Homo sapiens: one gene and its partner. The protein of the gene in region 2 interacts with the protein of the main gene of each other region in a biochemical or structural test. Each region holds a gene or a part of one and is shown on either strand. Other genes may lie near its edges.

Region 1 (7,039 bases), on a different chromosome or scaffold from region 2:
GCTCAGCTCTTCACAGGTACTTTTTCATGACATTTCCACAAACACCATATGTCTTATTATTATTTTACCGTCCTACAATAAGAAATTGAGGCTTGGCAAATTTCAGTGGTAGAATGGGGATTTGAACCAGAGGTCTGCAGGACTTCAGAACTCATGTTCTTGGCCACTTTTGCCAGTGATTGTCAAAGTTCATTCACTCACATACTGTCTTCCTGAGTTTACCATGGCTGAGTCCCACTTACTCTATTAATATTTTTCTTTAAAGCAATGATTCACTTAAAGAAAAGAACCTAAAGACATCATTTTTTTGAGAGGAAATTATGTATTACTACCATATTTGGAAAGCCAACTCACTTGTTAGGAATAGGAGGTAGTCATAAATATGCGTTTGTACTTGCACCGAAACCCCAACTTCAGAATAATGATTATGTGGAGTGTGTGTATGTTGCAGGGACCTGGAATAAAAATGGAGGAAGTAGGTAGATGATACAGTGTTGGTGATGTTCTGGTTTTTGGATTGGGTGATGGGTTCATAGGTGCTGATTTTATTTTTAGACTTTATAACCTACATACACAATACATTTTTTCTAAAATGATAAAGAAAATTAAACACATAACCATTAACATAATGATTACTTAGGGAATATTTTACTGCACTATGCTGACTATAGATTTAGCTTGGTGCCTTGTTTGCAGTGGGCACACAGTAACTACTGGCTGATCGATAAGACCCCAGGAAATAATTGTAAAGCAAGCTCATTGTTTGTTATATTTGAATAAGGTTGAGGTATGTCCCCCTCCTCCCCTATTTTCTCCTGCTTCTACTCTCCTTTCCAATATTGCAACTAAATAGTGTGGGCTGCAGTGAGGTTTCACCTGGCTGTAGTTATGGGAGACACAGGCTGGGCTGAAGCTAGCACTTTTCAGCATCACCTTGTCTTATATATCTAGCACTTGGGATGGGGCAAAGAATACTGTCATGAAGTGTTAAGACACCTTCCTTTTTACCCAGTAGTAAGGTGTGACCATTCAGAGCTGGAAGCAGTATTTAAGTTAAAGCAGGGCCTGGATGAAATGTTAACAACATTAAACTGGTGAGGCTGGGAAATAAAGCCATCAGAAATTTTAATTGGAATCCGCAGAATCTCCTGTTTTATTTTCCCAAGCAAGCACCGGGCACTGTGGCTTTATTCCTGGAAATGAGGATTTGGAATTGGGTTTCCTGGTACAAAATACCTTCTTTGATCTTTTGGAGTGAAAACTTTGTGTTTCTTTCTGTGGCCAATTCCAGCTCTCAGAAGAACCAAATGGAAGATTTACCTCCTCATTTTTAGCAGTTGGCCATAGAATGCTCTTGCTTGCCATGTTAAGTTTAAGAATCAGAAGTTCTAAACTAGGGTTTGTCTGTTGGAAGGACATTCAAATGAAAGACTCCTTTTGAAAGAGCCTCATCAGTTTGGTGTGGTTGGCACATCACAGCCTTTGGTTCAGATGGGAGGTAGTTTTGCTTGAACTCACACTCTCAAAATTAACTAATAAGATATTCGGCAGCTTCCTTTTCTGAGTTAACACAAATACACCCTCTGCCCCTAATATTCAAACTAACCACACATTCGAATACTATTCCTGTGCGCTTCTAGGCAGTTCTGGAAATGTGAGATTGTTTATATGTATAAAGGCTCTTATGTGATCCATCAGAGCTTTGTTTTCCAGAGCCACGGCTATTCAGTTGTTTGATTTTTGGGTTTCACTCTCTGACCAACATTCCACTTTGCCCATTAGAGTTACTTCATTGTTGACTCTGGGTATTTGGCCTTTATTTCTGTGACTGGGAAAGTAACTTTAAATTTCAGTCTTCCTAAATTTTGTGGAGGTTTGTGCAGTAGGTGAAAGTTGTTTTGAAGAGGGGGATGGGGTGAGACCACTTTTAGCATAAGTGTCCTGAGGGATCACCCAAGGTCAGTTCTCATTCATCTTGAGGCCAAACCCTGGCTGTTCTGGTCTCTGCATTGCCCCTCACTCCCCTCCTTTTTGGGGGACCCAGATTCTTCAAGGCTCAGAGTAATCTTACTGCAAGCAAGAATGCTTTCTGGATTTTGCCATTTTGCCTTTCGACAGTCTCCTAGGTTTTATCATCCCCATTTCTTATTCTGGGATGTGATTGATCTCTTTGAGGGCAAGGACTTCAAGTTGTTCATTCCTCCATTGATTCTTTCTACACAAGTCATTGCTCTTCACCAACTTAAAACCTTTCAAATTCTCTCCCTGGGCTCCTTGAGGCAAGGGACTGTCTTATTCATCTTTTGTGTAACTTTTGCACCTAACACAATGCCTGGCCTAGACCACACAGTCAATAAATTGTTTTTGAATTGCCGAGAGAATGAATGGATGATTGCATATTAAGGGAGCAAAGGGACCTAGTCTTCTAGGGAACCAGGGAGATTGCTGACAAGATGATACCAGTCACTGTGGTCCGTAAGGATGAGTTTGGAAAGTGGGGACGAAAGACATTCTATGTAGAAGGAACTGCTTTTGATACCTCTTCTCAGTGCTTAATGTTGTAACCTGTGCTTAGTCAATTCCACAAACATTTATTGTGTTCTTTTCAGCATATGTTTCTTTCTTTCTTTTTATATTTAAGAGTGATGCTTCCATTTTTGAGAAGAATATCTCACTAATTTTTTATATCCCACAGAGCAGGGAATCCTTCATTATTTATAGTTAGGACCCAGACACTCAGTGAATCAATTACTTTACTCTTGACTTTTTCCTGTTGCATATGTTTCCAAACAGTTGACAGTGAAAACGTAGTGGTGGGCCATGCTTATGTGAGAGGTGGAAAAATGTAGGTGACCTCTTTGGAAAATGGGTGGAATCCAAAGTAAACTCCTCTTTTGAGAGATTTTTAAGGGCTGAAATCAGTGGACATACCACATATAACTTTTCATCTTGAATACTTGATGGGTGTGTGCTTTTGCTCATCTATGAAAGCCAAGATTGGCTATTAATATCACCATGCCATCGAAAAGCAAGATTACTTTGATTTGGGGGATTCCGTTTTAGCCAGTTCTGGAAGAATATTGATAGGCCCTCCAAAATATAACCTTGAACTTTAGAAATGTACAGAGGGGAGAACGAAGGTGGGGTGATCTTGGGCAAAGTTGGATATTAGAAATGGGACGATACTTGAGAGTTTGGAACGTGGGTACTGAGGAAAATGTGCAATAAGAAGAACTTGAGAAAAAGCATTCTGGAATAGAAGGGATGGGTTGAGTGATGTTTTAAACCAAGTTCCGAAACTTCCACTATTGCAGCTATTGATGAGTGTTGGCTACGCTTGGGGTGAAAGTAAGATGTGCTTGATTTACTCTCTGTAAGTAGTGAGTTAATGCATATAAGCAAACATGACCATAAAGGCAGGAGCTTAGGGATGAATATCCCTTGTCTTGATGTCAGGGACTTACACAAGATAGAAATATGCATAGGAGTGAAAGTGTAGGTGGTTATCTAGAGTGACACCTTCCTTTTCAGGAGTAAGGGACACATGTGCCCAGTGCTATTTTTCATACAGTTTTCATATGCTTATCTTGAACTTGAAGAACCCAAGTTGTTGTGAACAATAGGTGGCAAGAACAAATATATTATGAGGATGGCCTAGTAAAAAACAGAAAAGCTCAGTCAGCAGAGATTACTTTATATAAACATAAATGTTCTATTTCAGTATTTTTAAAACATTTTAACACTCAGCAGTACATTTTATATCATGACCTGGTACACACACAAACACATATGCATGTGCACAGGTGTTAAAAATAAAGCTGAATTACAAGTTCTACAAAAATATTATAATGCTTTTTAATTAATATTCAATTTTTATTTTAAAAATTCTAGTCTTTATATACTAAACTGATTTTACAACTTGCTAATGGGTCCTAATAAGCAGTTAGAGAAAAAACTGTTCTAGGTATTGTGGAAATTAGCCTTAGTTTGTTTATTGAATAGTTGCTAGTCTGGATGAGACTTTCGTTTTCTTTTTGTGTGGATTTCTGTCATTCTATAGAAAGTTCTTACCCCTATGCCCCTCTCCCTTGCCAGATTATTTTTTCTGTGTATTGTTTCCAAATCAGATTAAAGTGAGTAATACGTGATTTGGACCAGCTCCAGTGTGCATCATCATCATCATCTTGATCCCCATCAGCATCAAAGGTGGGGCTGATTCATTTAGAATGGTGGCAGGAGCCACTTAACTCCCTGTTTATTTAGATTATACTTGAAGAGGTTGTTGACTTTCAGGAATAAGGGGAAGCTGAGGTTACACACACCCAAAGGATGAGAGGGAGGTGGGGAAGATGACCCCCATATATTGTTCAGAAATAAAAAATGAAAGCATGTGGTTAGTAGGGACAGCTCTTTGCATTCAAAGACACAAGAGCTTAATTGTTGTCATTGTCCTTATCATTAAAATCTTGCTTTCCTCTTCCTTCATCTTTTCCCGTCTTCTTTGTCCCTTATTTATTGAGCATTTATCAAGTCTTCCTCTAGGTAAGGTTGGGCATAGAAAGCTCAGTTATTGTCAAGTTAATATTAAGGTGCACTTGAGTAAGGGAGTGAATAATTATACATGTAACTATTAGTGGCAGAACTCTGAATATCTTGGTCACAAGTTACAGAGGATCAACCAACACCTTTAAGGAGGTGGCTGTTTGGCTGGCCTCTGAAAGAGGTACCAATTGGATGTTATTTTGAGAGGTATCTGTATGTGTATAGGTTGTAGCATAGGCAACATTCCAAAAAGAGAGAATGGGGCAAGTAAATATAAGGGGCTTGTTTTTTATTTAGAGGCCAAGTTATAGAAAAGATAGTTGCAGATTTTTTTTTTTTTTTTGAGATGGAGTCTCGCACTGTCACCTGGGCTGGAGTGCCGTGGCGCGATCTCGGCTCACTGCAACTTCCACCTTGGGTTGAAGCGATTCTCCTGCCTCAGCCTCCCGAGTAGCTGGGATTACAGGCACTCACCACCATGCCCAGCTATTTTTTTTTTTCATTTTTAGTAGAGATGGGGTTTCACCATGTTGGCCAGGCTGGTCTTGAAGTCCTGACCTCGTGATTCACCCACCTCGGCCTCCCAGAGTGCTGGGATTACAGGCGCTAGCCACCGTGCCTGGCAGTTGCACATATTTTTAATCACTAGTCTCAGACTATGTGTCCTGGGATGCAGCTTCTCAGGGTGGCATGCGAGACCTTAGACAACCGAAAGGAACAGCACATTCACAGTTAAAAGTGCTTTGTGATGTGACTTGACTCTGTAGAGCACATCAAGATGAGCACCATAGGAGCAAGCTTAGAAAGGGAGATTTAGAGGCACATTATGGCTTACTTTGAATGACAGGCTGGAAGTTAAGGCATGAAAGCAGGCCTTGGTCTGGCCCCTTTCATTATCTCATTTAATGCTCACTCACACTCCATGAAGTACCTGCTCTAATGCCCATTTTATAGAAGGAGAAACTGAGGCATAGAGAGGTGATATGAATGTCTAAGGTTACACATCTGAACTTTAACTCAGGCTGTAAATTCCCACATCACCATCAGTGCACCAGAGCAGAGGTTGAAAACTGGTGGTCTCTGAGCTCAGTATACCTCAGAGTTCTGTCCTGTTTGATACTGTATTTAAAACATTAAAAAAAAAAAAACATGGTTGCTAACATGTAAAAATGGGGGACATTTTCATAAAAAAAAAATCGAAATGTCCAGCTGCTCCTGCAACACTGAAAACTCTGGCAGCCCCAGGGCCATATTCCTTCCTGCAAGAAACTGCCAGATCTTTTGACCATGTCTGTCTGAGGGAGATGTGTGTGCTGTGGCTGCTACTGTCTCAGTTCATCCTGTTTTCTCCCAGACACTGAGGCTCGGTGTTAGTTGCTGTTTATTGTTCTTGCACTGACAGGTTTGTTTGTTTGTTCCTGTAGGCTAACTGGATTGACCCTATAGGTGTATGAGTTTGAGGCCTTGGCACATAGCCTTCTGTTAGCCAAGGATGATTGGTCTAGTGGAGTGGGATGCCCAGAAGCCAGGAGGAAATGAGAATAGATGGAACTAGGGTTTTAGCCTTGGGCTGGAGAAGCCATAGGGCTTGGTGAATAAATTACTTTTGCAATGAGAGGGAGGGTAGGGGTTGGGCAAACATATGTGACTTTTGGAACCTGGATGACTGGGAGAATGGTGTTGCTCTTAAAAGAAAATGGAAGGTTGCCAAGAGCACCTGGGTTGGAATGGATTGTGGCGTTGGGTTTGAGGTTCTGGGAGAGCAAGAACCCAGAAGAATGCTTACTTGAGCCCTGTGAGAAGCTGGGAAAATGGAACTGAAACTCTGGAGATAGGGTTTGGGGCTTTGGCTTTGTATTGGCTATTGGATTTGTACTGGTGATTGGTGAGAGGATGAGAATGTCCTGGGGGAGAGCTTCCTTTTGGAAATGGGAAGAAGTGGGTTGAGGTCTGAATGATAAAATGAACCAGCTACAAACAGTTCAAAGTCTGTTATTGACTTTTTGGGGTCAAGTGCCATATCTTGCAAATAAATCAAATGTTTATCCGAATAGAGGAGTAAAATAACAGTCTCCAACTTTTGAACATGGGAAACTGATAAAACATCTGCTCATAGAATCAAAGGCAGACATGCTGTTTGATGGGTGACACCTGTATCTTATGTCTGTGCCTATTTCACTGAGCCTTATTAAGGTAAAACTGATTCTAATAGTGACCTTTTCTTGGTATCATAGATGATATAAAATGTGAAAAAGAAGTTGCCGGAGCTCCAAGATGGGGAAAAAAATGCCAGAGGAAAATGCTCTCTGCTTGAGATTTATCCTTGCTTTTAACCAGTTTAGAATGGAATGTCCTTTTCAAATTCAGAGAAGCTTTCCCCCCCGCCTCCCTTGGCTTGTTTGCTTAGGATTCCCTCCAACTTATTGTTTCTTAATCAGCTGTGTCCACCTCAGCTCCTCTCTCTTCTCCTACTTGGTTCCCTTTTGATCCCTAAAAG
Region 2 (2,951 bases):
TCATTTGGGAGGATGAAACCTAGTAGCAGTTATTTAAATCAATTGGTGTATCGTGTTCACTACAGAAAAGCTTTCTAAGTATTAAAAAAAAAAAAAGCATCACACTGTTGAAGCACAAGGTTTAAAATTAAGTGTGTTGTACAGTAAGGTTTGGCTAATTGGGGAGCCAAAATACTTAATTTGGCTTAGGACAAAATAAACTGGCCAATTAATCAACAGTAAAAGGAGACAGTGACTGACTTGAACAAAAAAACAGTTGTTTAGTTGGTTTTTTTTTCTTTTTTGGGTGGAGGTATACACATTGGAAAAGGTATTCCGGAACACCTGGATCAAAATGACCTTTGCTAGGTCAACTCCAGAAATTGATCAATCATATCTGACCTGGTACACATAAATTCCAGATCTCCTTCTTAGATGAAAGCTAAAACCAGAGTTATCCTATAGCCAGAATGTGGGTAAGACACTAAAAGATGGTCAGTATACATTTAGAAACTCCACACTGTAAGAAAATTACACAGGCACATGGAAGAATAAGCAAGATCTTGGTCTTGTTTAAAAAAGAAAAGAGAAAAAAAAAAACCAAGCCACATCCTAGAGTTGAGAACAAATTATTAACAGCAAATGGCCATTTGTATAATTAACATGTACTGTCTCACGTTTCCCAGTTAAATTTATGAAAGACACTATTAAATTTCAGACAAAATATATATATTTCTTTTAAATCTTTACAATAAATCAAGATGTAGAAGCTTACATAGGGCACATTTTTGTTTATTTAGGTACTCAATTCCAGCTCCCTTGGATGCAAATAACCCTGGTGACAGTGTGTACAAAGTCTTCTCTTTGCTTTTTATAATTTTAAAAGCAAATAACACATTTAACTGTATTTAAGTCTGTGCAAATAATCCTTCAGAAGAAATATCCAAGATTCTGTTTGCAGAGGTCATTTTGTCTCTCAAAGATGATTAAATGAGTTTGTCTTCAGATAAAGTGCTCCTGTCCAGCAGAACTCAAAAGGCCTTCAAGCTGTTCAGTAAGTGTAGTTCAGATAAGACTCCGTCATACGAATTCCAGCTTCCCGTGCCCACTGTACATGCCCCAGTGAACAAGCGAGAGGATCTTATCGTTGCTGAGGTCTGCTTGTCTCATTTTATCACAGGTCAGACAGCAGTTCTCGTGCCCACTGACCGGCACCATGCATTCCAAGTCTAACTTTGCAACCTGCCCCTTTTTGGAATGGTGTCCGTGAAAGCTGTAGTGCAAACGGGAGAGCATCTGTTGCCGCTGATCCTGCAGCCTCTTATTTTCACTTCGAAGCATCCTCAGGGCCAACATAATAAGCAACACTAAAATCAGCCCTCCAGCAATGGGCACGGCAATGACCGCTGCCCGGAACCACAACTCTTTGGAAGAAGTCAGCTCCTGCACCTTGGTGATAAGGTTTCTGCTACCATCATGCTGATACCTGTTTCCTTGTCCTAAAGGAGTACAAAGAAAATGATCAAACTCCATGCTAACTCCTCCTAGGGATATTCATAATCATCAATTCATTTTAACCAAGAATTCCATTAAAAAGAAGCTTACAATTAAATCAACGATATTTAGAAAACATTGCAAAACTATCTGAAGAAGCTTACAAACGCATTTGTTTACAGACTGTCATTACTGAGATGTAATGGCCTTTTAATGTCTTCAAAATGTTGAAAAAACAGGCAAAACCTATTATGTAGACAGACATCTAATGCTCAGACATAAAAGCCACTCAATCAAGATGCATCTTTGCATCCAGCCAGGCTTCTCCCTCTGGTGTCTCTAATTACATTAACAACAAAATCAATAGCAGACATACAAAGTCGTGGCTGTCACAAGTCTATAGATCAGGCAGGCATTCTGGTTAGAAACGGCTTCCACCTACCTGAGGCCTCACCCCTGGGAGGAGAGAGAACATCGTGCAGCCCTCTGTAATTGCACATGTCTTCATGACAGCATTCCAATGTGGGTATGGTGGTGCCAGAGTGGTTTCGGGCCTGTTTGGCTTGGCAGATGTCTGTCGTGCTTGCAAGAGAGTCCAGGCAGCCATGGGTGAGTGGGGAATTTGAGTTCTGAGGATCAAGAAGTCTAGAGAAGCAGGCGCTGAGCTCAGATTTACACATATAACCAGTGGCTACACAGTGGGCAGCATCACAGTAGCATCGAATTTCACCTGAAAACAATGAGAAACCACCTCAAACTCTGCTCCAGAGACCAGATAAAGCAACTATTTAGGCAACTGCTAAATCCCAAATTCAAAGGCATGAACTTTTAGATCATCCAAGCTGAGGGCTCCAGTCTACAGAGCCTGGAGAAGCCCTTCCTGCAGCCAGTGCGTAAGTTTCAATCCAGTTAAACGTCATTTTGGCAATGTAGTAATCCCAATAGCAGGTTTCTGAGGAGTTTAGAGTCATTTTAAAAAAACTTTTGCTTTTTGAAGGAAATAGTAATGAGTATAATTTCTCCTACCATAAGGTATAACACATTATTTATTCATTTTAATCCTACATGACCATACAACATAAAAATGTTAGGCTTTTTGATTTTGTCAGTATAAATATTTGATCGGAACTACTGAATTGTTTACTATCCCACAGGACTGCACCAAGAGTTAAGAGCTTTAGCTAACACCTTATAAAGTTATTAACTAGAAACACAACAATCTAGAAACTGCCCAGGTCAGGAGGTTTTAAAACTATGAAACTAGGCAGCTATTTGCAACCTCTCTAGAAAAGGCAAACTTTTTGCCTATAAAGATCTTTTCATGCAGAGGAGCTTTTAGTCAGTATATTGTAAAACAGGAACTAGGCAGTTTACAATTAGTGGTTTGCTTGCCAAAGTCAATTTCTTTCAGCCCAAATGGAAAGTCATAAAAGGTGGGGGGAGTATAAAACTGCAAGGCTAACTTCTCCTCCTCCTCC

The links. Proteins that work in one complex are often made in the same cells at the same time.
Region 1: the proteins of BAMBI (region 2) and ACVR1 form a complex in vitro, tested with the Homo sapiens proteins (one study listed by BioGRID).

What each region holds. Positions count from the first base shown.
Region 1 is NC_000002.12:157,866,331-157,873,369, reverse strand, and holds part of ACVR1 (activin receptor type-1 precursor), read left to right. Parts: intron 1-7,039. UniProt on the Homo sapiens protein: Bone morphogenetic protein (BMP) type I receptor that is involved in a wide variety of biological processes, including bone, heart, cartilage, nervous, and reproductive system development and regulation.
Region 2 is NC_000010.11:28,680,510-28,683,460, reverse strand, and holds the end of BAMBI (BMP and activin membrane-bound inhibitor homolog precursor), read right to left. Parts: intron 2,204-2,951; coding exon 1,916-2,203; intron 1,479-1,915; coding exon 1,060-1,478; 3' UTR 529-1,059; downstream 1-528. UniProt on the Homo sapiens protein: Negatively regulates TGF-beta signaling.